Linked DNA regions of Homo sapiens. The protein of the gene in region 4 purifies or fractionates together with the protein of the main gene of each other region. This does not show direct contact. Each region holds a gene or a part of one and is shown on either strand. Other genes may lie near its edges. The genes, in order: IPO5, KIF14, MIGA2 and SLC27A2.

What was found.
Region 1: the proteins of SLC27A2 (region 4) and IPO5 purify together in Homo sapiens (affinity purification with mass spectrometry; 2 studies listed by BioGRID and IntAct, with this or other methods). This does not show direct contact.
Region 2: the proteins of SLC27A2 (region 4) and KIF14 purify together in Homo sapiens (affinity purification with mass spectrometry; 2 studies listed by BioGRID and IntAct, with this or other methods). This does not show direct contact.
Region 3: the proteins of SLC27A2 (region 4) and MIGA2 purify together in Homo sapiens (affinity purification with mass spectrometry; 2 studies listed by BioGRID and IntAct, with this or other methods). This does not show direct contact.

The regions. Positions count from the first base shown.
Region 1 is NC_000013.11:98,005,614-98,012,926, reverse strand, and holds part of IPO5 (importin-5), read right to left. Parts: intron 6,798-7,313; coding exon 6,579-6,797; intron 4,869-6,578; coding exon 4,785-4,868; intron 3,047-4,784; coding exon 2,914-3,046; intron 2,825-2,913; coding exon 2,703-2,824; intron 682-2,702; coding exon 585-681; intron 1-584. UniProt on the Homo sapiens protein: Functions in nuclear protein import as nuclear transport receptor. Serves as receptor for nuclear localization signals (NLS) in cargo substrates.
Region 2 is NC_000001.11:200,610,693-200,618,005, forward strand, and holds part of KIF14 (kinesin-like protein KIF14), read right to left. Parts: coding exon 6,920-7,313; intron 4,918-6,919; coding exon 4,663-4,917; intron 3,714-4,662; coding exon 3,626-3,713; intron 1-3,625. UniProt on the Homo sapiens protein: Microtubule motor protein that binds to microtubules with high affinity through each tubulin heterodimer and has an ATPase activity. Plays a role in many processes like cell division, cytokinesis and also in cell proliferation and apoptosis.
Region 3 is NC_000009.12:129,032,431-129,039,718, reverse strand, and holds the start of MIGA2 (mitoguardin 2), read right to left. Parts: upstream 3,094-7,288; 5' UTR 3,038-3,093; intron 2,786-3,037; exon of another isoform or gene 2,752-2,785; coding exon of another isoform or gene 2,703-2,751; intron 1-2,702. UniProt on the Homo sapiens protein: Regulator of mitochondrial fusion: acts by forming homo- and heterodimers at the mitochondrial outer membrane and facilitating the formation of PLD6/MitoPLD dimers. May act by regulating phospholipid metabolism via PLD6/MitoPLD.
Region 4 is NC_000015.10:50,177,493-50,185,211, reverse strand, and holds the start of SLC27A2 (long-chain fatty acid transport protein 2), read right to left. Parts: upstream 3,017-7,719; 5' UTR 2,785-3,016; coding exon 2,307-2,784; intron 1-2,306. UniProt on the Homo sapiens protein: Mediates the import of long-chain fatty acids (LCFA) into the cell by facilitating their transport across cell membranes, playing an important role in hepatic fatty acid uptake.

The DNA.
Region 1 (7,313 bases), on a different chromosome or scaffold from region 4:
GGTGTGTAATCCCATAACTTTGTGGGGCCAAGGCAGGAGGACTGCTTGAGCCCAGGAGTTTGAGACCAGCCTGGGCAACATAGGCAGACCTTATCTCTTAAAAAAAAAAAAAAAAAAAAAAAAAATCAAATCTAGCTGGGCTTGGTGTTGTGCACCTGGGTCCCAGCTACTTGGGAAGTTGTGGTTTCAGTGCGTCCTGATCACGCCACTGCACTCCAGCCTAGGTGACAGAGTGAGACACCATCTCTTAAAATAAAAGTCTTATTTTCTTAACGTTTACCAAAAGATATTTGGGGAAAGTAGCAACTATATATAATTGTAATCATTTGCTAATTATCCTTAAATCCTTAAGTGGGCCACAGAAAGCTGACAAACATAGGATAGGTCACGTTTTCTTTTTCATGTTTTGGCACAAGTGGAAACAAAGGCACATGCAGAGAACCGAGTTTATCACCTAAGAGTACACTTAGTGCAAATACAAACAATCATGGTGAAGTCTACTTCAGTCAACACTGTCTAATACTCCAAGAAACTACAAGTTTACTAAATCTAGACATGTTTTGTATTCAGAAGTTGTAGGATATCATCGTGGAAATAAAATTTCAGTAAAGGGACCATCAGTTTGACAACCTGTTCGGTGTACTCCACAAAGCCTTCCTTTAACTCCTTAGCATAGCAAACCTGTAACCAAAGTATTGGGAGGAAATAAAGATTCATGTTAGTCTTCAAGCATTAATATTAACAAACAGCAAAATCATAAGGACCACAGGAGGTTGTATTTTGACTAGAACTACATTTAAAGTTGCATGTAGAACTGTCAAATTAGTCTTCCAACTAAAAAGAGTCTTAAAAGAAGGGTCATGAAATGATTGTAGTATTGGTGAGTGACAAAAAGAAAAAAAAAAAGGAAATTATTGTCGTATATATTGTCCCTTCAAAGGCTGGAATCATTCGTATTCCATTCAGCAAGTTTCAGCAATACATCAAACAAAATGTATCACTTAATTGAGGAAAAATCATTCTAAAAGATACAAAAAACCCTGAAACCATCAGTTAATTGAAGCATTTACTTTGTAAATCTGTAGAAAACGCTTCTGTTATTTTGTATTTTTAAAAAATCATGGCTGGGCACGGTGGCTCATGCTTGTAATCCCAGCACTTTGGGAGGCTGAGGCTGGTAGATCACGAGGTCAGGAGTTCGAGACCAGCCTGGCCAACACAGTGAAACCCCGTCTCTACTAAAAATACAAAAATTAGCCAGGCATGGTGGCGGGCACCTGTAATGCCAGGTACTTGGGAGGCTGAGGCAGGAGAATCGCTTGAACCCAGGAGGTGGAGGTGGCAGTGAGCCGGGATGGCACCACTATACTCCAGCCTGGCTGACAGAGTTAGACGGATCACGAGGTCAGGAGTTCAAGACCAGCCTGGCCAACATGGTGAAAACCCGTCTCTACTAAAGATACAAAAAATTAGCCAGGCATGGTGGCGTGCACCTGTAATCCTAGCTACTCGGGAGGTTAAGGCAGGAGAATCACTTGAACCCAGGAGACGGAGGCTGCAGTGAGCTGAGATCAAGCCACTGTACTCCAGCCTGAGCGACAGAGTAAGACTCTGTTTCAAAAAGCAAAACAAACAAACAAACAAACAAAAAAAACCCCAAAAACCCAATTGTTTCATTCTCTTCTACTACATCTAAAGATTAATTCTGTTTAAAGATGTTATTATTTGTATTTGCTTTCCAGTTGAGAGAAAAAACCCACAAAAATCCAAAGTGTTTATAATTTATAGATACTAAGTATTGAAGATGACAATAAGAAATACATTAATTTCTAAAATCTAACTTTAAAAGTAAGTATTGGCCAGGTGCAGTGGCTCATGCCTGTAATCCCAGGTCATGGCAGGCGGATCACCTGAGGTCAGGAGTTGGAAACCAGCCTGGCCAAAATGGTGAAACCTCATCTCTACTAAAAATACAAAAAGTAGCCAGCTGTGGTGGCAGGCGCCTGTAATCCCAGCTACTCGGGAGGCTGAGGCAGGAGAATCAACTGAACGCCAGAGGTGGAGGTTGCAGTGAGTCGAGATCGTGCCACTGCACTCCAGCCTGGGTGAAAAAGAGAGACTCCACCTCAAAAAAAAAAAAAAAAAAGGATTATCCTTCACTTTAAAACGCATGCTCATAAAGAAAACAAAAAGAAAACTAGGAACTAAACATGCATATGCACACCACAAACACCATAAGGGATAATAACCGAACATTTTGATTTTCCTGCCATATCTGTTTTTTTACACAATTGAAATCATACAAGTTTTGTTTCACATTAAATAGCATGAACACACTTCTGTTCATTTGTTTAAAAAACATTCCATGGCCACCTACTATAGACTAAGAACAAAACCAACAAAAATCCTTCCCTCATGTAGCTTATAAACTTTTTGTAATGGCTGTATATTACTCCAAGGCACAGTAATTCATCTTCCCACTAACAGGAATTTGGGCTATTTGTTGTTTTTTGCTATTTAAAACAGCACTGATAATGAAAGGTTTATCCATACGATTTCTTTAAAATGGAAAGAAAACTTTACTTTTTAAGGAACATATTACTGGCTCTCCAAAGTAATTTCTTTAGCAGCTATTAAAAGCACTCATATGAAATGTATATAAGATGTAAAATAAAAGTTTAGTAAAAACAGTGCTCTCTTACCAACATCTGGCAAGCAGTTGATTTTTCTTCTAGTCCTGCAGTTTTAATACCAAAGCTTTGCTGATCTCCAAGGTTCACAAATTCCCAACCATCATCATCACTCATATTCTCCATGTCTTGGGCTATTAACGGAGAAGAAAACAAATGCATATGAAAAATAATAACAAAGAGAGAACTATTATAACCGATAGCTCCTTCTAAAGACACCTACTATCTAAAAGGGCTACTTCGGGCTTAATTGAAGCCGTCTTCATTAAAGGCCCCATAACCACTGGAAGGTATTGCTGAAATTCTTTTCCAAGGATTTTGCACATTCTGGCCCATGCTGAGATCATGTAAGAGATCTGGGGAAAAATTTTAAAATTAAAATAGATTAAAAAACAATGGGTAAACGTGATAAAGAAAGCCATTTCCTTATTTCATAGAAACAATGTTTTATTGATATGTTCACAGTACTTTAAGCAGTAAGAGCATTTCTAAAGGTTATGTACTTAAAAGGTTCAGAATCAATAATGAAATCCCTGTGAACTCACTACACTGGGATATGGACAGCAGGTGAGGCAAAACACAAAGACCAGAACCTTGGGTATTTCTTTCTACTTTCAGTAAGTGATAATGGTTTTCTTTCTTAGCATCTGAATCATCTAAATGAAACTAATCACCTAAACAAAACCAAACACTTCATCAACTCCCAGTTACAAATTTTTTGAAGACAGAAATGTATTTTATCTGACTCTGTATCCCTATTGCCTGCCACTCCATTCATTAAACATTTATTAAAACCCAAGAAACAAAACATCCTTTTCTCTTAGCTGTTATAATTTTCTCATAAGTGGCTGAGTATATTTAAAACACCTCTTCTCCTATTACTGTGTTTACACAGACTTTATCATCTGCAAATTACCTAGAGAATCTGGTTCCATTCACCACCCCTGCAACCTAGAAAGTGATTCTTATCCCCTGATATCTGTCATCCACCTACCTATTTATCTATTGAGCATGCATGGACACATGCCCCACCTCTTAATGATTTTATATGTAAAAGTCCACCCGCTCTTCAGATAGGTACTGGGTGTTTCTCACATGCCAGGCATTAAACTATATGCTGGCTGATACAAAGGTGAGCAACACGCCTCGTCCTTACCACCCCTCCCTACAGCTTACAGTCCCCTCAGTCTCCCTACTGTCAGCAGTCTGCTAAGTATCCCTCCTGCCTGTTATCTCTGTACATACAAAACATACATGTATATTTGCATATCATTTTGCAAAGAAAGCAAACAACAACAAAACATGCTTTCTTTGCAAAATGGTATGTTTTCCTATTTAAACTATTACAGTGTGGCAATGTAAAGTCAAAATTTAATTCAACAATTATTTATTGAGTGCCTTGTTATATGTTAGGCATTGGGAATACCATCAAGATATGACAAACATTTATGATGTTACTATAACAGTGTTGGAACTGCCCACCATTGAGACTGAGCAGATCAGGAAAATCTTGTAAAGGATGAGAACTGTGAGCAAGCGTTAGCTGGGTATGTATACCTATGTGTGTATGTGCGTGTGTGTCGAGAGGCAGGGGTTCCTCCTAATGAAATGCCTTTGTCTGTTCGTTGGCGGAGAGGCAAGCAGTGTGTCCTGAGATTCTTGGGTTCTGTATTTTCTGCCAGGGGAGGGAGATCATGCAGCCTTCAAAGGGCTAGGAGACACCCAAATGGAGATGTCTATTACATGTTGGATAAATGAATCTTCAATTCTGAAGATCTGAAAGTTGCAAGCACACAGAGGAAACCGGAAGCCATGTCTGTGAGTGACACTGCTCCACAGGAGTGAGAAGAGAGCCTTGGATAGAACCCACAAACACCAAAACTTGAGTGAGAGTCACAGAAAGCAAGAGCAACCTACAACAGACTGAGAAAAAGTAGCTTGAGAAACAGAAGGAAAATCAGTGAAGAATGTCTCTGCTAGCAGGGGTTGATAGTATGTCAAGAAACCTATCACTCCTTTTGTTTTAAATATATTGAACCATGTGCTGTCCACAACTCATTAGCGGATCAAAGCAAATGCATTAAGACCACTTACCTGAGGATCATCATCTTCCATATCATTGAAGTCTGTCTGGGTCTTTAACAAAAGCTGCATCACATCTGATGCATCCTGCATGAACTAGAGGAAAATATGTAGAGACACACTTGTTGATACCGAATTTTGTTTCTTGTGTAATTAGCAAAGCTTTGCCAAAAAATCGACTACATTGCCCACATAGGTCATAACTTTCATAGATAAACTATCATATTGAAAAATTCTCATCTATATTGTGACAGATTTAGTTCACTTTCTAGAAAAATATATTTTCCACTGAAGGGCAGGGAACTACAGTATAAAGGTACTTCTAATGGCATCAGGTGTTAGTCTATGGCTTACGCATTTCAAGCAGTAAAACTGAATTCAAATTCAGAAAGAAAATTTTAGATTGTTTATAGAATTCACTGCATAAAATTTTGTCTATGATTTTCACTTAACTCTTTGCAGTTCTGGTAATCTCCATTGTATAAACAGGCAGCGTTTTAAAGAGACATTGAAAGCCAGATATATAGAGTATGGGACATACAAATATTTTATTGGTAAAAAACATACCAATGTTTTAGTGGTCAGCGTCTCACAGAAACCAGTTCCAAATATAAATTAATACTGATGCTGGTTTTGAAGAAGGCAAGACAGAGCTTCTCTGTTGATAATTCTCAGGGTCAGAACATGAGGATTCAATGACAGAGAAACTTCTTTTGCATTAGCTTGAACAATTCTGAGATGTTGGCTGAGAAACACACTGGCCAATGGTCCTTGGTAATTATTTTCTGAAGATCTATATGCATAGATTTCTCTCTTAGAACACTTGATGCATTTTAGATTAATAGGAAAGCAAGTGACATGTTTCCAAGCACATATTTAAAGGGAACGAACATGGATACTGACTTCCACACACCTCCCACGAGATGCACTGTGTGTGGTGGGGAAAGGAGGAGGCATCAGGAGCACAGCTGAGCTAAAAAGAAACCTTAATATTAACAATGAAAAGACGGGCTGGGCGCGGTGGCTCACACCTGTGAGCAGACTGCTTGAGGTCAGGAGATCAGGGCTAGCCTGGCCAACACAGTGAAACCCCATCTCTACTAAAAAAAAAAAATACAAAAATCAGCTGGGAGTGGTGGCAGGTGCCTGTAATCTCAGCTACCTGGGAGGCTGACGCAGGAGAATCGCTTGAACCCAGGAGGCAGAGGTTGCAGTGAGCCAGGATCATGCCACTGCACTCCAGCCTGGGTGATAGAGTGAGACTTGGTCTCAAAAAAAAAAAAAAAAACACCAAACCAAACAAACAAACAATGAAAAGATGAAGGCAAGAATTTGTATATAAAACAGGAGCAATGTGAAAGGAGTAAGGAAAAAAACAAGCATCCAGAAAACCATTTTTCAGAAGGAAAAAATCCCTCTAGTACTCTCAATGCCTCCACAGCCAAGTTAGGTACAGTAAATTTAACATAATAGAAATTACAGGCCGGGCACAGTGGCTCACGCCTGTAATCCCAGCACTCTGGGAGGCCGAGGCGGGCGGATCACGAGGTCAGGAGATTGAGACCATCCTGGCTAACACAGTGAAACCTTGTCTCTACTAAAAATACAAAAAATTAGCCGGGCGTGGTGGCGGGCGTCTGTAGTCCCAGCTACTCGGGAGGCTGAGGCAGGAGAATGGCATGAACCTGGGAGGCAGAGTTTGCAGTGAGCCGAGATCGTGCCACTGCACTCCAGCCTGGGTGACAGAGCGAGACTCTGTCTCAAAAAAAAAAAAAAAAAAAAAAAAAAAAAAAAAAAATTACTTACTTTTTCCTTCCCAACAGCCAGACCAATGAGGCTAATGCATTCAATAGTTTTTCCTCTCAGAAGTCTCAGTTCTTTTTGAACCGCATTCTCAACGATGTGCTTCAGTGATGGCATAAATAAATCATAGTAGGGGACAAATTTTTCTTCTGCAGTATCGGCAACTGATGCAATGGATGTCACAACTTGTTCCAAAACTAACTTGGTGCCTTTCTGAATCAGCTAGAAGGAAGACACAAATTATTACCTCAAAGGAAAACTGGAAGAAGTATTTAAATTTACAATTACTACTCCCTTCAAGTTCTTGAATGCTTTTCTGAAACAGCAGAATGAGACCACCTCTCCAGAAGCAGAGACTGTAGGTTTTGGAGGAAATTTCTATAAAAAGAATCTATGTTGAACTATTTATGTGAGATTTTTTTTTTCTCTCTTCTATTAACACAACACCTCTAACTCATGTTAGTCTCATCTCAAAGCACAGCTAATTCTTGAGTACAGATACGGAATCAAAATTTTTGTGTTCATCAACTTTAATGCCTACACTTCATCCTCATTTTTTTCTTCACTGATTTCCTCTACTTATGATTATATTTTGTGCTGTCTTACTACGTCATAAAGAAAATTCCCTCTTTGGCCCCTTCCTTTATCTTCTAACCCCCTCTCCCCAGAAGATCGCACGAAGGAACCCTGCTGCCTTCTCTTGCATCTGTCTTGCTGAAACAGATGAGATGACCTTTT
Region 2 (7,313 bases), on a different chromosome or scaffold from region 4:
GCTAAGATCTCAGAGACATATAACATACCTTCCAATAGATAAAACACAGCAATAGAAAATTAATTAAGAATCAAAATGAGATGACTATAAATATGACTAATCAGAAAAGGGAAAATTTAGGATGGCCAGAGAAAAGGGAAGGAGTAAATAGAATGTGAGGCATGAGAGACAGAGTAGATTGAACCAGAAAGAGGGGGTAGGGCATTCTCGGGCAAGGACAGCAGCATCTGTGCATCACATGTGCTCAGAATAGGAAAGACACCCTGTAGGTTGACATTTGATCTGGTAAGATGGAACCTTAAATCAACAATTCTTCCTGATTGGGAGAGAAAGCAATCATTAGATTAAGTGGGCTGAGCTTCTCCTCCTTTTGACTCTGAAAGATACAGTGTAGAGGCCAAAAACGGGAAACTTTGCTTCCAAACAGCTCTTCTGACAGTTAGGGCATGGTTTCCTTATTAGAGAAATAAATTTCATCCACTGACCCAGAAGTGAGTCAGCAAGCATCTAACAGAATTGGAAGCTTCAAGGGAGTGTCAAAGAGATTTAAGTTCAATTCACCAAATATTTATTGTGCCCTACTAGGTACAAAGCACTCTTCTAGGAGCTGTGGGAAAATATGAGATGAACTGGACATAGTTTTTATCCTGAAAAAACTCAGAAGCTAATTGGAGATGCAATACAGTACATGAGTAATACAAGGCAGAATATAGCTGGTGTCATGAGAGAGAAACAAAACACTTCCAAAGAGACCAGGTATAAGGGAACACCAAGTAATTATAAGGTCATTGACAAATGCTATGAACAGGGATGGGGGCTGTCAGAATTCAATAAACACGTAATAATGCTTATTTTATGTAAAATAGTATTTTATGTTATAGAGGCTCCAGGAGGACTTAGAAATGAAAATGTAGTGTGGGAAACAAATTGGAAAAGGTAGCTGGGGCCACACTGGAGAGGTCCTACTTTTTTCTTCTCCTCTGAGGCTCCTGCCATCATGCTCGCTATACCACCTTCTATTACCCCCATCCACATACTATTATTCTCTACCATCCTGGCTAATTCCAAAGTTGATATAACCACATTTAGTTGGGCTCACTATGTGCCAGGCACTCTTCAAAACCTTTTGTATAGATCAACTCATTTAATGCTCACAACAAACCTATGAGAAAGACATTGTCAATATAATCTCTATTTTCTGTTCTGAAACACAGAAAGACATTAAGTAAATTGTTCAAGATCACATTTCTACTGCAGTGATGAAGCTGAGATTCAAATTCAAATAATGTATCTCCAAAGTCCATGCTCTTTTTTTTTTTCTTTTTTTTGAGACAGAGTCTTGCTCTGTCGCCCAGGCTGGAGTACAGTGGCATGATCTCAGCTCAGTGCAATGTCCGCCTCCAGGGTTCAAGCGATTCTCCTACCTCAGCCTCCCGAATAGCTAGGATTACAGGCGCCCACCACCACACCTGGCTAATTTTTGTATTCTTAGTAGAGACAGGGATTCACCATGTTGGCCAGGCTGGTCTCAAACTCCTGACCTCAGGTGATCCGCCTGCCTTGGCCTCCCAAAGTGCTGGGATTACAGGCGTGAGCCACCATGCCTGGCCAACCAGGCTCTTAAGCATTCATTACACTATGTTATTCAATGACATAGTCATTCCACGCAAAATCTGAGCCTCCTAGTCCTTTGAAATCATTCCAAAGACCTTTGCCTCCACTACACTTATCTATGTCTTCCTGGCTTTACCTTCAAATTACTATCCCTCTAAAATCTGGAGAGCCAATAGAGAACTCTGCCCCACAAGCCCACAGCTTTCTCTTATGCCCACTAAACTTGGACTTGAATCATATTTCATCTCATAGTCTCAATACCACCATATTTCTATTGATCCCCATACTCCTCCTATTTTCAATTTAATTACTGGGAATGAGAGGTTGAGGGTAGAAGAAGACAGAGGAGAGGCAGTATATCCACAGAAGAGACAGAACTCATCAATTACTCAAATCTACTTTTCCTCTTGTGATCTCAAAAAATGACATCGATATCTAATCTGGTTGTCCAACCAGAAACATTGATTTCTCTCTCCCTCATCCTCCATTTCCAATAATCAGCAAGTCTTACCAGTTATCCTTACTAAGACAGTCCTTCATGAGCCAAGTTCTGCAGGCCTTTCTAGTTTATTCTCTTTTTTTTTTTTTTTTTTTTTTTTGAGATGGAGTCATGCTCTGTCACCCAGGCTGGAGTGCAGTGGCGCGATCTCGGCTCACTGCAACCTCCATCTCCCTGGTTCAAGCGATTCTCCTGCCTCAGCCTCCCAAGTAGATGGGATTACAGGCATGTGCCACCACACCTGGCTAATTTTTGTATTTTTAGTAGAGACAGGATTTCACCATGTTGGCCAGGCTGGTCTCGAACTCCTGACCTCAGGTGATCTGCCCGCTTCGGCCTCCCAAAGTACTGGGATTACAGGCATGAGCCACCGCACCCAGCCTCTAGTTTCTTCTCTTATCACTTTCCACCCTCAAATTCCATGCTCAAAACACAGTGAACAATTTATAGATTCCCAAAGGCTCCCTACTTTTTTGCTTTCAAATCTTGGTACATGCTGCTCCCTCTCCCTGGAATATCCTTCTCCCCTTCTTTACCAAGCTAATAATGCTATGTATCCTTCAAAAATAAGCTCAGCTGCTCCTTCCTCTGAGAGAATGTCTCCCTCCAACTTTATATGTCCTCACTTACATGTTCTATTAGAGCATCTACTTTAGTTTGTTTAGCATTTAATTGATTGTACTTGGCTGTTAACTTATTTCTCCCACTACACTCCTTTGAATACAGGGACTGGGTCTTTTAACTCCACACCCCTAATCTAGCACAATTTTCCCAATTTCCTTTATCATAAAAAATACTGGAGGAAAAGCATGAAAATTATAAAATCCCAAGCTCTACACCAGACCAACTGACTCAGAACCCCCAGAAGAGATTTTTAGCAAGTGTGTACATACACATACACATGCACATATATGTCCCTGCCAAGAATCCCCGGTGATTCTTATGACCAAGAAAATTTGAGAAAAAAAAAAACTGATCTAACAAGCTGCCTGGCAACAGCAGAATGCTCAGTAAAAGGTAGCTGAATGTGTAAATGAATAAGTGAAATAGGAAGCCAGTACAGCCTATTCAGGTGTAGTAGAGTGGAAAAAGCATGGCTTTTGAAGTCAACTCTGGGTTCAAATCCCAATTTCACTACTCTTTCTGATTCACGTTGTCCAAAAGGTTATGCCTGCTGTCCTTAGTTAAACTGTACACCTATCTGACTACAAACACACGTATAACAGCACATAGCTACCATGTTTGTGAGCCTCTACGTATACACAAAAGTAAAGCAAAAACAAGGGAGAAAAGACAGAAGAGATGACTTCACTATCACTGCCCACTAGGTGAAACTGATTCTGAATTTAGAATTTCCACCCTCCCTCTCCATACCACTGTTCCAAAGAAGAGTGATCTACAAATTAGAACTGATCTTCCATTAAGTATTTCCTTAGTGGCCATGACTGATTTGAACTTGATTTGACTATTTTCTACTCTGAAAAGAAGCTTGCAGGTATTATAAGAACATACCTCTTGGGTTTGTTTTCTGGCTACTTGAGAAAAAAGATCTTCACAAAATCTTGGAATTATTCCTGGTTCTTCACTAAATCCCATCATCCTGAAAAATACATTATGAATAAGGGGGAAATAAAACTAATTCTTTCTTTAAAATTCTTTTTGGGGAAATAGGCTGGGAAGGGAGTAGGAAGCAAGTTCACTGAATCTCATAATTAAGAATCTGGACTCTGGAGTCAAATCTGCCTGAGTCCAAATCTTGACTCCAAGATATTTAACCTCACTAAACTTCAATTTCCTCTACTGTAAAACAGGAATAATACAACTATCTAATTCAGAGAATTGTTGTGAAAGAATATAAGCAAAGTCTTTAGCACAGTGTCTGGAATATAGTAAGAACTCAAATGTTGGGCAACCCGCTTGGGACCCCTCCACGCTGTGGACTGTGGAAGCTCTGTTCTTTCGCTCTTCACAACAAACCTTGCTACAAAAAAAAAAAAAAAAAAAAAAAAAAAAGAACTCAAATGTTAGCTACTGTTAAAATGCTGAGTATTTCTTTCTAGGACAGGTATTATTATCATAGCTACCATTTATCAGATGCCCCTCCACCCTTTTTTCTTAAGAGATGGGGACTAAGTTGCCCAGGCTGGACTCGAACTCCTGCACTTAAGCAATCCTCCTACCTCAGCTTCCCAAGTAGCTGAGACTACAGGTGTGTGCCATCACATCTAGCTTAGATGCCTTACTTTTAATTCTCACCAAAATACTTAAAAGATAACCTCTCTAGGCCTTAGTTTATGTAAAATATATAAAGTACAGTAAAATGGGGCCAATGATAATTACAAGATGAATTGTATCAAGGTAAATGTATAAACTGAAGCCCAGAGGCTAAGTAAATTGCCCAAGTTTGCAGAACTGGTATATAAAATGGATGAGATTTGGGCCAAGATCTGTGTGATTTCAAAACTATATTCTTTCTATCACCCCTATGCCACTTCTCACAAAAGTATATTTAAACACTTCTGGATAATTGCATTTCCAATACAACTTACGTATATGATTTTCCAGAGCCAGTCTGACCATAAGCAAAAAGACAGGTATTGAAGCCTTCGAAGGCTCTTTCTAGGAGTGGTGCTGCTAGCTTCTCATAGACAGTTGTCTGGCTAGCGTAGTGAGGATGACATTCATCAAAAGACCAGAATGAAACATCATAAATAAAATTATAAACTTGTTTCGTGTCAGGGTGTTCCACAGTTATTTCTTTCCCACTCATGAAGACTACCTGGGATGCTTTTTCAATCTTCTCTCTTGAAAGAAGCACAAAGAAAAAAATCAAGTAACTAAAATGATCAAGGGTATTATTCTCACAGAACATAATAAATACCTCAAAACTATTTAAACAATCTTCCAAGGCAAGATAATTCTGTAGTTTTATGTGGAAAATGCAGATAAGCAAACATAATTCTAGTGGGTTTCCAAAATATATTTCCTGAGGCTCCAGTGCCACCAAAGGGAAAATCCCAGATTCCTCCAGAAAACCTATCCTACTTTTACAAGATTTTTTCCTCTTTTTTTTTTCTCTTGAACTATACCTTTTCCCATCCCACCTACTATAATCTACCTATACTCTTCATCCAAATCTACATCTTTATTATACAAATTTGGGGGGGTACCAATCTAAATAAAGCTGGCATAAAATACAAATATCTAATTTTAACAAACTCAGTTGACTGTAAGTTTCAATCATAAGTCTCTCTTGGCTACTAAAGATCTCTCCTCCTTCCTCTAGATTCTCTCCCTTAAAATCATGAATCTTTCTGTATATCCTTTTTCCCTTTGAGACTTAGGTGGAAATCTTTCATTTACTTTAGATCTACAGAAAAACATCATCACTCTTTGTCTGGCTCCAGATATACACTCCCTCCCCGCTCCATCCCTGACTCTGAGACTGCTTTAAATCAGAATTTATTCTGGAAAAAACACCTGCCTCATCAATTTGACAAGTACTCTACCCTGGCCCTGCTTTCAAGGCTTGTCTGATGAGTTTGGAATCAGGCACTTGGTCCCTTACTAAGTTCAGTATAGTCATCCATCTTGCATTTTGTCCCTACCAGCTCTTTCTATTGTTTCTCTTCCTATCATGGTTCTTGAGGCTCTATTAGACATTCCAATTCTCTCAAACCAACTCACCCTCAGTTCTCCCTCTTAATACTAACCCATTTGCACGAAAAAGATTCTACAGTACTGTATAACTTGCCTTTAACTACTGACCCCTTAGGTTCAAACTGGAGGTTCCTGCCCTGATGCAGTGGTCACCAAATCCTCTTCTAACTTGCTTAGATACACAGCTTCAAGTTAAACACTACTAACTCTGTGAAGTTTTTCACTGTCCCTTAAAATATTTTAAACAACTACATTAAAATATTTTAAAACAATTACATTTTGTCACATTCACATTTTGTCATGTCCATCTTTTCCAACCTTATCTTTAATCTGTGTCTTCCCCACCCACAACCACTTTTAGAGAGAGATTTTTTGCCATCAAAATCAAATCTAATGTATCACTGCATTTATAACTACTATATAGTAATCGGAGACAATGATGATGATAATCACCACTCTGGAAAGGGTTTTGAAAGGACCTCTTTAGGGAACCAGTAATTTGTTATGGCTCTTCTTTTTTTTGAGACAGTCTCGTTCTGTCGCCCAGGCTGGAGTGCAGTGGCCTGATGTCAGCTCAATGCAGCCTCTGCCTCCCGGGTTCAAGTGATTCTCCTGCCTCAGCCTCCCGAGTAGCTGGGATTACAGGTGTGCAACACCATGCCCAGCTAATTTTTGTATTTTTAGTAGAGACAGGGTATCACCATATTGGCCAGGCTGGTCTCAAACCCCTGGCCTCAAGTGATCTGCCTGCCTTGACCTCCCAAAGCAATGGGATTACAGGCGTGACCCACCACACCTGGCCTGTTATGGCTCTTTTTAAGGGATAGGTATAACATTCCAGCATATATTGCAGATCTGAAAGCAGATTTCATTAGAGACCTAAGTGACTTATTCAGACTTTTTAAAAGCAATATATCTAGAGAAACTTCAATATACAAAATATGGTGATTCAATTTTTTAATTTTATAGTCAGTGATCAAAAATTATCAACACACACTACAACTAGACCTAAAAGTTCTTTCTATATAAAAGTATTGCCAACAAGTTTGAAGATGCACGAATACACTGACCTTCCAAAGGCAGAGAGGAATTAAAGGTACCTTACATGTAACTGCTTGGCTTTAGATTTTAAAAGGCATCACATACCTCTTGGTGAAAGGTCTTACGCGTACTGCCACTGTCACTTGACTATTCTCTACTTTTAAGGGGTCTTTTCCTGCAGAGGTGTTCTGAACTACAGTTTCTTCTTCGGGAAGAATTGTATTTTCTGCGGATCTTTCCTGTTTATTTGCAAGAAAGGAACTTTTTGGTCTTTGTTTAACTTGAAGGTTAGACATTCTATTCTTCAGTATTGATGGAGCTGGGCTCTTAAGCTGAGGCAGGCTGCACTTTGTTGTCAGTTTGTGTTCTGTTGTACATTTTGTAGGTGTTCTTTTTTCTAAGCTCCCAAATTTATTTGAAGTTTTTGCAATTTCCTTCCCAATACTTCTATGATACAAGTTTCCTGTTCCCAACACTTTGATATCCAACTTGCTCTGAG
Region 3 (7,288 bases), on a different chromosome or scaffold from region 4:
GGCGTGGTGGTGCACACCTGTAACCCCAGCTACTCAGGAGGCTGAGGCAGAAGAATCGCTTGAACCCGGGAAGCAGAGGTTGCAGTGAGCTGAGATCACAACACTGCACTCCAGCCTGGGCTACAGAGCAAAACTCTGTCTCAAAAAATAATAATAATAATAATAAAATAAAGAAGCTGGGCACAGTGGCTTACGCCTATAATCCCAGCACTTTGGGAGGCCGAGGAGGGAGGATCACAAGGTCAGGAGATCAAGATCATCCTGGCTAACACAGTGAAACCCCATCTCTACTAAAAATACAAAAAATTAGCCGGGCGTTGTAGCGGGCACCTGTAATCACAGCTACGCGGAAGGCTGAGGCAGGAGAATGGCATGAACCCAGGAGGCGGAGCTTGCAGGGAGCCAAGATCGCGCCACTGCACTCCAGCCTGGGCAATAGAGTGAGACTCCATCTCAAAAAATAAATAAATAAAAAACAAAAAAATAAAATAAAATAAAACACACACACACACACACACACACACACACACACACACACACACAAACAAAGAGCTACTCCACGCTACGTATTTTGTGCTGCATTCTTTACATCCATCATCTCACTGAATCATTAGAATTTTGTGAGGTTGGCTGGGGTGGCTCATGCCTGTAATCCCAGCACTTTGGAAGGCTGAGGCGGGCGGATCACCTGAAGTCAGGACTTCCAGACTGGCCTGGTCAACATGGTGAAACCCCGTCTCTACTAAAAATACAAAAATTAGCCAGTGTGGTGGCACGTGCCTGTAATCCCAGCTACTTGGGAGGCTGAGGCAGGAGAATCGCCTGAATCCAGGAGGCAGAGGTTGCAGTGAGCCTAGATCGCGCCACTGCACTTCAGTCTGGGTGACAGAGCGAGACTCTGCCACAAAAAAAAAAAAAAAAAAAAAAAAGACAAACAAAAAAAAAGGATTATGTGAAGTTGATGCCACCCACCTTCCCCCCAGCCTCACCTCTGGTTTCCAATGAGGAAACTGAATCTCAGACAAGCTAAGTCAGGAGTCCAAAGTCACACAGCTGGTACTTGGTAGAGTCAGACTTTGTGCTCAGTACAATGCTTTTGCTAAATTTGACATGCAGCAGGAAGTAGCAAGCCCCAGCAGACCACAGAGTACTGGGCAGCTTTCCCCTGGACCTTGGGAGATACTCCCCTCCCTGCCAGGGTACCCCATTGCCCCTTCCCAAGGCCAGGAAATAAGTGGCTTGATCACACCTAGCCTGGACCCCAAGACCCGGCAGGGTCCTCCCCCACTTCCAGCTCCAAGCCCAAGGATGCCTTCAAGGTCTCCCGGGACCTCAAGCGGAAGGAACACACAAGCCAGGACAGACCCTGTCTCCCTGGGATGGCCGCCAAAGTCACTGGGCCAGCAGAAGAAACAGCTTCTCCCCAGTGAGTGGGAAGGACTGAGGAGCCTGTCAGTCTCGCTCTAGGGCTGGTGGGGGTGTGTGAGAGGGCAGGGCAGGCTAAGGAAGCTTCCAGGTTGTCAGGGGTAGAGACATCTGCCCAGGAGGCTGTGAATTGAGCTACGTGAGCTGCAGTGGTCAGGACCTAGGTTAATACTGTAAGCCACGTCCCCCTACCCTTCACCCCAACCCCAGGCTGGCTCAGGTCTCAGAAAGAGGGAAGACAAGAACATCAGAGGGCCAGCAGCTACTATTTCCCAAGCTCTTATTCCAGGCCAGATCCAGAACAGGCTCTCCACGACAGGCTTTGGGTCCAGTCCTCTCAGAACCCTCGCAATGGCCAATGTTTATCTCAAGGATGGGGAAACGCGGAGGCTCTGAGATGAGGCAGCCTGCCTGAGGTCACCGAGTACTAAGCGGCCAAGCTCTGGGGGATCTCAAGGCTGTGGCAGGGTTTCCCAGCTTCTGCCTGCTACAACTGCCACTGCTCCTTCCAGGCCACAACTGTAGGACTTCTGGGCCCCCAAGTGAGAAGCCCACATGGTGTTAAAGATGAGCCTGAACAAATAAACGCTACAGGGGTGACTGAGGCCCACTGTTTGCGGGAGAGTCCAGAGCAGCCCCTGCTGTCCCCACTGGGAGGCAGAGCCTGCAGGTGCGAGGTAACATCACCAGCCCCCAAGCCTGCTTCACTCCAGGGATGGATCCAAATCCAGTCAACCCACACTGTGTCCGTCCCCCTGGCACCCTGTCCGTCCTCCAGGGCCTAAGCTGAGACCCCTCCACCTCCTCTCCACAATGAAAAGCCCACGGCAAGGTCCCCTACCAAATGGACACTTCTACTGCTGTGTAGGGCCTGGCCCCACTTGGGCAGCCATCTCTTGTGCCCTACAATCTTAGGCGGACACCTCCTCATTCCACCGTCACCACAGCACTTACAGCACCCTCAGCCTGGGTGCCTAAGCATATCATCCTACGCGCCTCCTCCCCTGCGCTAGACCACCCCACTAATGACTCTGGCCTGTGCACTCACTCATTCCGTCTGGACCCCAACAACGTCCCCGACTCCCTTGAGCCACTCTGCCCAGTCTCCTATTCACCCCATGCCGGACCCCTCAATAGTCCCACCATGCCGGGCACCGGGCATCCCCGCGTTGGACCTCAGCAATATCCCCGTCTTCAGAAATTGCTCACTCCACCCCAGGCATCTTGGGCAGCCCCTTCTTCTCTTGCCCCCACCCCGGAATATCATTGAAACTCACCCAGGTACCCTCTGGCGCCGCTCACGGCCCGCACGCCTGCTCCTTCCATCCCGGGTGCTCTCCCCGCCTCGGATCGGGTACCTGCGCGCCTGCTCCAATCCCCGCCACGTTCCAGGCCCGGGCATCACCTCCCTGACCCAAGTACCTTCTCGTTCCGCTCCCAAGCAAGGCACCCTCTCGCACCGTCCCCGGCCCGGGTACCCACTCATTCCAACCCCGACACCTTCCTGGTCCTGTTGGGCCCGGACACCTGCGCCTACTCGGTCCTCCGCTCAAGTCCCGGCCCTGCCGCGCTGCCCGCCCGCCTTGGGGGCTCGGCCGGGGCCGATACTCACCCGGGATGCCATCGCTGCGGAAGGGCAGCGTCTCCTTCCCCGGCGGCTGCGCAACCAAACCGGCCGCCCGGGGGCGTGGCCTAGCGCCAAGCCCCCACCCTCTTCTGGCCAATGAGCATCGCTGAGTCTCTCAGGGCCGCCGCAGCCTCTGGCCAATTAGGCGGGTCATGTGACCAAGCTTATATTCCGCCTCTCCCGCCCTCTTCCCCTCCTCCTAGTGCGGTTGAAGCGCGAAAGTGGTCTCTTCTCTTCTACTATTGGTCATTCAGATTAGATCGACATGGGCGGCTGGGTGGGGCGGGGCCATTCTTAAAGGGGCTGAAGCGGAGCAGTCAGACCTCCAAGGGGCTTTCTTGGAGTACGCCAAAGCAGGCTGAGCCCTCGTATTAGGATCCTCTATTCTTGTTCCACACAAGGACAAATCCTTCCCACTCTCCAAGCGCCCATTTTCAAATACTACCGCCCCTGACTTCCCGCAGCATGCTCTTATACTGTCGCCACTCTCCCCCTTGTTCTGGAGTTGTTTGCAAAAGTGCCAGGTCTCGCCGCTAGACAGTGTCTCTCTGAGAGCTGGAGTCAAGGGGTCTTCAGTTCTGGCCACCTATCTGGGTCTTACACTAAATACCAGGATTGAGATCAGGCCGACCTGAGATAGAATCAAGTGTTGCCACTTCAGCTCTCTAGAGCTTACCCCTCTATGAAATAGGGATGAGGCCGGGCGCGGTGGCTCACGCCTGTAATCCTAGCAGTTTGGGAGGCCGAGGTGGGTGGATCACGAGGTCAGGAGTTCGAGACCAGCCTGGCCAACCTGGTGAAACCCTGTCTCCACTAAAGATTAAAAAAAAAAATTAGCCAAGCTTGGTAGCACACACCTGTAATCCCAGCTACTCAGGAGGCTGAGGCAGGAGAATCTCTTGAACCCGGGAGGCAGAGGTTGCAGTGAGCTGAGATCCACCCATTGCACTCCAACCTGGGCCAAAGGGCGAGACTCCGTCTCAAAAAGAAAAAAAGAAATAGGGATAAAATCTTCCCTTTCCCAAATCATAGGGCTTTGGTGAGGATGGAAAGAGGACGGTGTATCAGCCCTTCCATAACTGCGAAGAGCTGGGCACAACTACGTTTTAAAATTGTAATCGTCGGCCGGTAGCAGTGGCTCATGCCTCTATTCCCAGCACTTTGGGAGGCTGAGGTGAGTGGATCACATGAGGTCAGGAGTTCGAGACCAGCCTGGCCAAAATGGTGAAAACCGGTCTCTACTAAAAATAAAAAAGCTAGCTGGGCGTGGTGGCACACACCTATAATCCCAGCTACTTGGGAGGCTGAGGCAGGAGAATTGCTTGAGCCGGGAGGAGGAGATTGCAGTTAACCAAGATCACGCCACTGCACTCCAGCCTGGGCAACAGAGCCAGACTCCATCTCAAAAAAAAAAAAAAAAAAAAAGCCCGGGAGCAGTGGCTCACGCCTGTAATCCCAGCACTTTGAGAGGCCAAGGCAGGTGGATCATGAGGTCAGGAGATCGAGACAATCCTGCCCAACATGGTGAAACCCCATCTTTACTAAAAATATAAAAATTAGCCCAGCATTGTGGCGTGTGCCTGTAGTCCCAGCTATTCAGGAGGCTGAGGCAGCAGAATCGCTTGAAACTGGGAGGTGGAGGTTGCAGTGAGCCGAGATTGCGCCACTGCACTCCAACCTGGGTGACAGAGCAAGACTCCATTTCAAAAAAAAAAAAAAAGGAAAATTACAATTGTCGGTAAAGCCACATTCCTTCATTCATTCAACTAATTAAGTGTGCCAATCCTTTGGCTGGACATGGGAGCTCAGTGGTGGACAAGAGACAGGTATGTGGTGGCACCAGGGAGCTCATTGTCTGGGGAGCAGATACTTAATCACAATCCCCTGTGATGGTTACTCTAATGGGGGAATGTGGGATACCAAGGAGATACCTGGGCTTGCCTGGGGAGGTGAAGGGCTCCAGAAAGAAAAGGGGTCCAAGGCCGGATGTGGTGGCTCACGCCTGTAATCCCAGCACTTTGAGAGGCCGAGGCGGGCAGATCACCAGGTCAGGAGTTCGAGACCAGCCAGACCAACATGATGAAATTAGCCAGGGGTGGTGGCATGCGCCTGTAATCCCAGCTACTCAGGAGGCTGAGGCAGGAGAATCATCTCTTGAACCCGGGAGGCGGAGGTTGCAGTGAGCCGAGATGGCGCCACTGCATTCCGAGACTCCGTGGGGAGGGGAGGGAAGGGGAAGGCAAGGGAGGGGACGGGAGGGGAGGGTGGTCCAAACAGCGGATGCCCAGTGCCCGGCATGGTGGGACTGGTGAGAGGTCTGGCATGGGGTGAATAGGAGACTGGGCAGAGTGGCTAAAGGGAGTCGGGGATGTTGTTGGGGTCCAGGCGGAATGAGTGCACAGGCCAGAGTCATTAGTGGGGTTGTCTGGCACAGGGGAGGAGGCGCATGGGATGATAAGCTTAGACACCCAGGCTGAGGGTGCTGTAAGTACTGTGGTAACTTTGGAATATAAAATTAGCCGGGGGTGGTGGTACCTGCCCCCAAATACTTGGGAGGCTGAGGCAGGAGAATCGCTTGAACTCAGGAGGTGGAGGTTGCAGTGAGCCAAGATCGTCATGCCATTGCACACCAGCCTGGACAACAAGAGTGAAACTCCGTCTCAAAAAAAAAAAAAAGGGTGGGGGGGGGGCCAAGGGCCAGGCACGGTGGCTCATGCCTGTAATCCCAGCACTTTAGGAGGCTAAGGCGGGCGGATCACCTGAGGTTGGGAGTCGGAGACCAGCCTGACCAACATGGAGAAACCCTGTCTCTACTAAAAATACAAAAAATTAGCTGGGCATGGCGGCAGGTGCCTGTAATCCCAGCTACGCAGAAGGCTGAGGCAGGAGAATCGCTTGAACCCGGGAGGCGGAGGTTGCAGTGAGCCGAGATCGTGCCACTGCACTCCAGCCTGGTGACAGAGTGAGACTTCATCTCAAAAAAATAAATATAATAAAATAAAATAACTGTCCTCTAACTGGCAAAAGGTGTTTTGTTTTGTTTTTCTCTAGCAGCCAAATAAGCACTGGCTTCCAATGAAGGATGTATTAAATAAATAAATAAATAAATAAATAAATAAATACAAACAAGCATTGGCCTCAAGATAAGCAACACTCAAACAACTGCAGCTCCTTCAGCTCCCGGACGCTGACTAACTGAACTCCTGTTCTACTAGCCTAACTATAGCTTTCATTGGACAAAAGACTAATTTCAGTTACTCTTCTGATAAGACCAACAGCTGGGTGCGGTAGCTAATGGTTATAACCCCAACACTTTGGGAGTCTGAGGCAGGAAGATCACTGGAATCCAGGAGTTGGAGATCAGGCTGGTCAATACACAGCAAAACGCCGTCTCTATAACTTGCGGTCCCAGTTCCTTGGGAGGCTGAGGCGGGATGATCAATCGCTTGAGCCCAGGAGGTTGAGGCTGCAGTGAGCCGTGATTGTAACACTGCACTCCAGCTGGGTGGCAGAGCGAGACCCTGTCTTAAAAAAAAAAAAAAAAAAAAAGAATTAGACCACTGGCCATGGACCAGTTCTGGCCATTTTGCAGAGATTGGCCGTTGTGTGCCTTCATGTCCCTAAACAATCCTCTTGACATATAGGGCCTAATTGTAATACATCTAAATATTAATTCACCACAAAGTGAACATGGGACCACCTTGATGAATATTCATAGCACCTCCTGCAACCTGTTGAATATGTATGTTTAGTCAACCTATTCAGCATAAAGCTCCTACCACAAGTTCTCCTCCTTCCTGGAGGCGATGCAGGATTTTTCTTGACTTCTTTGTTGGACTTGCGATGGGGGTGCCCTGTCTAGGCCAGCCCGCCATGCTCAACCCTTGTGGGAGGGAGCATGTGGGCGAGCAAGTGCAGGATCCCGCTGGCTGCTCTGGGCGTGGGCAGAAGGAGGCTCCATGCAGGCCCCATGGCGGTGCCCAGGTCGGGGTGCCTGCAAACCCTGAAGCCCCAGAGGACATGTTACAGTGCTCTCTTAGCTCTGCTGTCCATGGACAGCAGTGTGTTATCAGCTCGGTAGGCTCCTTGCTTTGCCACGTGGGGTGGCTGCTCTCTGCCAGTGAGGGCAGAGGGCCAGTATGACGACCTTTTTCGGGTACCCGCACTTGGTGGGTCCTGAGCTCTCGTCTAGTGTCCAAGAAGAATGAGGTCACCTGGACACTTGAAGGATAGCAA
Region 4 (7,719 bases):
GCTGGGTGGGAAGAGGGTATCTGGTTGTAATTCTGACTTTATTGCAGAATCAAACTGTATTATGGTCATTTAATCCTGAACTTCTTTGTCAACAAAACTCCAAACCCTGTGACCTCCCTCTCAGGGGACCTGGGATACTAAAGTGATAAACAGAATTTAAATGCTTCCTGAAGTGGTACAAAGATCACTGTGTTAATAATTTCCCTCCAAGCAAGCTGGTAAAGTAATAGGCTTAGGAGAGTCTTCTAGTTACAAAGTAGTGAAGTTATCGCTTTTCTCAGGCAGCTAGAAATTAATGGGAATTTTCTTGAAAGGACCATCTCTTCCAAATAATTTAGCCACCTTTAAACTTGTCTTTTTTTTATTCTGTTTTTTGAGATGGAGTCTCACTCTGTCCCCCAGGCTGGAGTGCAGTGGCATGATCTCGGCTCACTGAAACCTCTGCCTCCTGGGTTCAGGTGATTCTCCTGCCTCAGCCTCCCAGGTAGTTGGGATTACAGGCACGCGCCACCATGCCCAGCTAATTTTTTTTTTTTTAGTCGAGACGGGGTTTTTGCTATGTTGGCCAGGCTAGTCTTGAACTCCTAACCTCAAGTGATCCACCTGCCTCGGCCTCCCAAAGTGCTGGGATTACAGGCTTGAGCCACTGCGCCCAGCCTAAAATTTGGCTTTCTGCTTTTAAACTTTTATACAAAGCCTATATTTTTTGGATTATTTATTTCATGCCACATGAAGCAGGTGTGTAAGATTCCTGGTTTCTCACAAGTGAATTAACCTTTCATCTTTCTGTAACCCGCTTAGCTTGCCTCAGTTTCCCCAGCTATGAAATGAAGGGGTAGAGCAAGTGGACACTTCATCCCTTCCAGCACACTTAACAGTTTACATCCATGCAGAGGAAAACAATAAGATGTAGGAAAGAGGCTGGGTGTGGTGGCTCACACCTGTAATCCCAGCACTTTGCGAGGCCAAGGTGGGTGGATCGCTTGATCTCAGGAGTTTGAGACCAGCCTGGGCAACATGGTGAAACCCTGTTTCTACCAAAAATAACAAAAAATTAGCTGGGCATGGTGGTGCATGCCTGTGGTCCCAGCTACTTGAGAGGCTGAGCTGGGAGGATCGCTTGAGCCTGGGAGGCAGAGGTTACAGTGAACTGAAATAGCGCCACTGCACTCCAGCCTGGGCAACAGAACGAGACTGTCAAAAAAAAAAAAAAAAAAGATGTAGGAAAGAGCATGGCTTCGAAGTTGGATAGAGCTAGGTTGGAATTTTAAGCCTCAGTTTTCTCAACTGTATAATGGTGGTGGTGGTGGTGGGGATAGTGATATGTTATCTCCCGGGGTAATAAAAGCATCTACTATAGGGCTTAGCACAGAAATGCATTCTAGAAAGCTGAGGCTCCTCGGCTCCCTCGACCCCTACCCTGTCACCCAGGTCTTTCAGCCCACTCCTGTGTAGGCCTCTTCTTACTGACTGAGAGAAGGAACCCTTGGTCCTTATTCAAGTGCAGAGACAAGCTCTCTGGGAGGGGAAAGCCATCAGCCCTGTGAGTAACAGGTTCTCTGTCACTTCCTGACCTTGTCATCACTTAAGTTACTGTTTCAAGTCTGGCTGAAATGTGGCAGGAGCTAACCACAGAACTGAAAGGGTCACTATTGTGATAGATGCAGTGGGGGCTCACAACGGTCCTGTAGCAGATCCCCAGTATCTTCTCCCTGGGGATCAGGTGGGGTCACCTTTGTTCTGCAGGGAGGGGACAGGATGCTAACAGCAGTTGAGAGCTGGAAGCAACATTGAAGCCTGCCTCATTAGAGAGGAGCAAACCAAGGGACAGAGAGGAGAAGTGACTTTCCCATGATCACACAGCCAGTCAAGCAGCAGAGGTGAGAAGAGCCCCTCTGGATCCACTAGAGTTCGCACTCAAGATCCTCTGCATTTTAATGCAGATGTTATAAGTATTGATTAAGAGCTTGGAATTTGGAGATAGATGGCTGGGCATGAGGCTTCACCTCTCAGGACCTCAGTGGTCTCATCTATAAAAGTCCTATAACAAAGCCTACCCATTGTGAGGATTAAAAACCACACTGCCTGTAGAGTGCTTAACACAGAACCTAGCACATTATCAGCTTCCACAACAGGTGGTCCTAAAAGATCATTATTTGCGATTCAAGGAAACACTGCCAACCTTTTTCTATACCTACAGTTCCGATCTGAACCTCCCTCTGCGAACCCCTTATGCCACGCTGTGGCTCGTCAGTCAAGGCGCCGAGAAGCCCTGGTGCCAGGGCAGGGCGATCCTCGGGGCTCACCTGGCGACACCAGCAGCACCTTCGCCCCGCAGCACTGGAAGCAGTGCAGCAGGGACTTCGCGCGGATGTTGTAATTGAGGCACGCCATGGCACAGCCCAGCTTCACCAGCCCCAGCCACAGCCACACGTAGGCCGGCTCGTTACCCATAAGGAGCGCCACGCAGTCTCCCTGGCGCAGGCCGAGGTGGTCGTGCAGCGCCCGGGCCACTTGATTGCTGCGCCGGTCCACCTGCGCGTAGGTGAGAGTCTCGTCGCGGAAGAGCAGAAAAGGCTTGTGTGGCGTCTGGCGCGCTTTCTCCAGGAACGCCCGCAGGATGGTGCGCGCCGGCCGCCGCTTCCCGTAGCTGCGCACCCTCCGGCCCACGGCGGCCACCTTCAAGAAGTAGCCTATGTCCTGGAAGAAGTATGGGCAGCAGAGGTTCACCAGGAGCGGCAGGAACAGCAGTCCCGCCAGGACTGTGTAGATGGCGGAAAGCATGACGGCTGCGGGGCCCTCTGTCCCAGCGAGGGCAGAGGGTTCACCCCGGGCGTGCAGCGCGGCGACTGGGCGGGCTCCGGGCGGACTGGCGGGCTGCGCCGGGGCGCACGCGGCGGGACGCCGGGCTCGCGTGAGATGAAGGGGAAGACAGAGCTCCTCCGCTGCAGGTACCGCCGCGGGCTCCGGAGCAGGTGTAGTCGTATGCGCGTTGCCGGGGGTTCCGGGCAGGACTGGCCGGCTGAGCCCGCCCCCTTGTGGGGGGCAGCCACCTGCTCTCCCGGCCCTCCCACGCGGTCCTCCCGGGGCTGGGCAGGCTGCCCTGCGGCTCACCAGGAGCCTCGGCCACTTCCCAGCTCGAGTCTGGAGGTCTGGGGTCAAGTCTGGACCTCCTCGCGTTGTGACCGAAGTACTTTACCTCTAGGAGCCACGGTTTCTTTAAATGGTGATGAGACGCGCTTAGCGGACGTTGGGAATATTAAAGGAGATATTGCAGGCGTGGGGCTATTATTTGTTACCACTAATAGAATGGCTTATGGAGATGACACTGTTATTACCGATAAAGTGCCTTATAAATGTCAGACAGTCCTATTATTTATTAATAGCGGGTACCAGGTGCCACTGCCAAACCAGAATCTCATCTCTCCTTCCTGGTCCCAAGGGCTTTCCGCCTGGTCTCTCTTTGTTTCTCAGATTTGCTTCCCAGCCCGACTGCCAGGCGGTCTCCTGTAGCGAAGGCTTCAAGGTTGAACAGAAATGCCTGTGGCAGTCACGTCCAGCTCATCCCAAGCCCTGCCAGGTGAGTGAGGGCAGGACACTCTAACCTAGTCGGCCCTGCCTGGTCGGGGGAGTCCTGATTTCGTGAAGAGCAGTGCTACACCGCACCACCTGAAATCAAGCTTTGACATTATTTTACGATTTTGTTCTGTTAAGTGATCCTGCTGTTCCCTCATGTTGAAAGTTGTCAAGTGTTGTCAGCACAGTTCACACATTTAATAAGTGGCTCTGTCAGAGAATAGTATAGTACAGAGGACATTGAGTAAGTGGTATTGGCATGACTCAAAAACCATTTCTTTTAGAGGAAATGTGAACCTTTCTTTTAATTTGCCTTAGTGCTACTTCTGTACGAAGTGAATGCTCACTACTTGCCACTGAGGAGGGTCAGGATCTAAGTAGTGTTTTATTTTCATCCTCTACTGTCCTCCTGTGTTCCTCTATCTTAATTTGATACGATAAATACAGATAATGCTTATTCCTCCCAGACACGCTGCTAGGAGCTTCCCTATGTTACATTTTGGGAGCCTGAGTTATTTTATACAGGTGGCACTTTCATGCTCATTTACAGACAAGAAAGGGAAGCTTAGGTGAATTGAGACAGCCGGTAAGTAATTCGTGGGTTTTGGAAATGGTATCTGTTTGGTCCCGGGGAACCAACTCTTAGCTTATTCTTAGTAACTATACTATGCTGTCCTCCTATTCTCTAGGTTTCTGTCCATGTCCTCTTTTTTTTTCGGTGTGTGTAAAACACACAAAAATGTTTCACATTCCCTCCAGGCCACCCCCTGCCGTTTTTTAGCCTCCTTTTCGTATCCCTAGTAACTGCGCAAGCAACCTTTCCCTTTTCCTGACTTTTTCATTTCTGATCCAGCTACCTGGTTGCATCATTTCCCTGGGGATGAGCTGGGGGCCTTCATCATCCCTGAGGAGAAAGCAGTAGAATTAACCAAAGTGAGGGCCCGACAGAAACCATTCTCATGTGCACTTCTTTCATGGTGAAGCTCAGAGCCAGCCCTTCCTTTTTCATCCCAATGCCACCCTCGTCCCTTGATGGCTAATCGCTTCTGTGTAGCCACCTGCACCCCTCTTCTCTTTTCCTTGAACAGCTACTGTCTACCCAGAGTGCTAGATTACCACAAGGGTCCACTTTTTCCCCTCTTATTCTGAGGATCACTTTAACCTCAGTTACAAGTAAAAGAAAACAAGACCCAAGCTAGCTGAAGCAGAAACAGGAATTTAAGTAGTAACTGGAGAGTCCGGGGCTAAGACATCAAGGATTTTAAATGCTGACACCTGGATCTAGTTTTGCTTTCACTATTTCTCCTCTGCACCTCCTCTGTTCTCATTCAGGCTCTCTGGTTTTTGTCCAAAGATGGCTGCCAACAGCCCTTAGGGGTACATGCTTTCTGGCTCAACTTCAGAGAGAAGTACAGGAATCTTTTTCTTAGGAGTTCTCATAAAAAAAAAAATCCCTGACTGGATTATGCGCCCATTTCTGAACCAATGTCTGTGGGTCCTGGGGAAAAAGGTGCTAGTTGTTTTAAGCCAATCAGCGCTCACCCATGGGGGTGAGAGTATAATCAATTTCACCTAGGCCATTTTGTGGAACGTTTTACGGTATTATTAAAAAGTGGGGTTAGGGAGAGTAAATTTGGGGAAGTAATTTTCAAATGTCTATAATATATACCTTGGGAGTCCCAGTGATTCCAGCTTTGAGCCTGGGATCCAGCTCTTGCTTTATCACGAGGTTAATAGATGTCTTAGTCTGTTTGGGCTGCTATAACAAAATACTGTAAGCTGGGTAGTTTATAAACAACAGAAATTTATTTCTCAGACTTCTGGAGGCAAGTCTAAGATCAAGGTGCCAGCAGATGTGGTGTTTGGTGAAGGGCTACTTTCTCACAGATGGTGCCTTCTCACTGTGTACTGTTTGGTAGAAGGGACAAATTACCTCTCTGGGGCCTGTTTTATGAGGGCACTAATCCCATTCATGAGGGCTCTGCCCTATGATCAAATTACTCCCCAAAGGCTCTACCTCCTAATACCATCACATTGAGGGTTAGGATTTCAATATATGAATTTTGTAGGGGACATGAACATTAAAACCACAGCAATAGTCTTCCTGGAAATATTGCTGCCATCTTATATCTCCACTGCTCAATTATCTTTAGTGGTTCCCCATTGCTTCCTATTGTCTTCCACCAATGACATCTATAGACAGTTGTACTTGTACAGCATACTAGAACATACCTGGCCTAGAGTTGACCAGATGCCCTGGCTTCTGCCTGACTCCTTTGAAAGGTGATCGATAGCTTAGCACGTTGGCTGCCCATTCTTGGTACATCTCTTGGGAACCTCTGGTCTATAAAATGAAATTTAAACTTTATTTTCTGGCTCTTCTGAATCTCACTCAAGCTTTCACTACACTCAATTGACAAATATTTATTGAGTTTCTGCTATGAACCAAACATTATTAGGTATTAAATATTTTAAAATGGACCAAAACTTAATTCTAACTGTTCCTTTTCAAGCGCACTTTGTTTTTAGCAAGTCTGGTCTGCACACTCCTAAAAATGCCCTGCACCTTCCTCTTTCTACTGGCTTGTTCTTACCACTTTCCACCCCTGACCATCCTAACCCTGTAAATCTCAACTCTCCTTTAGGGCAGTAGTTGTTTGATTCCTGAATTTCTTAGTCCCGTGTTATATTTCGAAACCAAGTTAGGGACTCAAAATAAGTAACGACTTCTTAATTTTTCTAGTAAGAACAACCCCCTCCCCCATCACAGTATATTTGTTATTTTATAGAAGAATGACATTTTTGGCACTAAAAAAGTATACCTGAACTGTACACTTAAAAATGGTTAAAATAGTTAATTTTTATGTTATGCATATTTTACCACAATTTTAAAGACAGTAACAATAAACATATAGCCCTTTCCAAGAAAAGACGAAGACAATGTTACACCAACACATAAAAAGTACAGAAATTATCCAAGTGTGGGGGCATGCACCTGTAATTCCAGCTACTCGGGAGACTGAGGCAGGAGGATCACTTGAGGCCAGGAGTTCAAGACTGGACTGGGCAACACAGTGAGACCCCATCTCATATGAAAAACAAAACAAAATAATCTTACAAATTCTCACAAACAGATAAAAATAAAAACATTAAAAATATTTTTGAATGTAGAAAACTGCAACTTTTGTCTGGGTTTTTATACCATATAGAAATTGTTTTTATACAAGTTTGTCTATTCAGTAACATAAATTCCACAGGGAAATATGAAATAGAGCCAGATCTTGGACTTTGATGTAATTTAGGATTTTGTCAGCACTGAGATCTCAGACATGGAGATTCTCCGTCCCCATAGGCTTAGTTAAGCCTCCTCATTCCACTTCTCCCATTCTCTGACATTACTGAGCCTATTCATTTCCTCTATCAAGATTTCGGTCCCTTCCTGGCCAGTCACTTCAACGTGGCCTCCTAGACCCCTCTTTTCCTTAAACTTTCTATCCAGGTATAGATGACCTCAAATGCCCACTGTCTTCTGTCCTATTCTAGGTATTGCAGGAGAAGTTTAGGGGCAAGACAGGATTACTGGGTGTGCATACTGACACCTTCTAGCCTTGGTCAGGACGTTCATCCCTATCATCTATCTCTGCTATTTGAGAGAAGGCTTCCTATTGGCAGTCCCAGACCTTCCCTACCCCCTTCAAAGTTTCCAATCCCAATCTCAAATGTTCTTTTAAAGCAGGTGGCGTCCCTTCCTACTTTATGGAGATGAAGTAGTTCACTATTTCTCAAACTTTACAAGTCTGAGAATCACCTGGGGAACATGCTAAAATATAGTTTATTAAGCCCCATCTCCAAAATTTCTGATTCAAAGAATTCACATCTCTAAGAAGTTACCAGGTATTGCTGACACTGCTAGTCCAGGGACTATACTTTGAGAACTACTGATTTAGTCCATTGGCTTCCAAACTACTCGGTAGAGCCCTAGTGGCTGAGAAGTTACTGAGGAGAGTTCATTGCATAGAGTGGGAAAGGGGCTCTGGGAGGATCCTACCCTAGCTCCAATCAAAACAGCTCATATACTTGTTTTACACTTCCATGTAGAGTTCATGTGAAAAAAAGTATTCCCAAACATTTTCCTTTAAATCT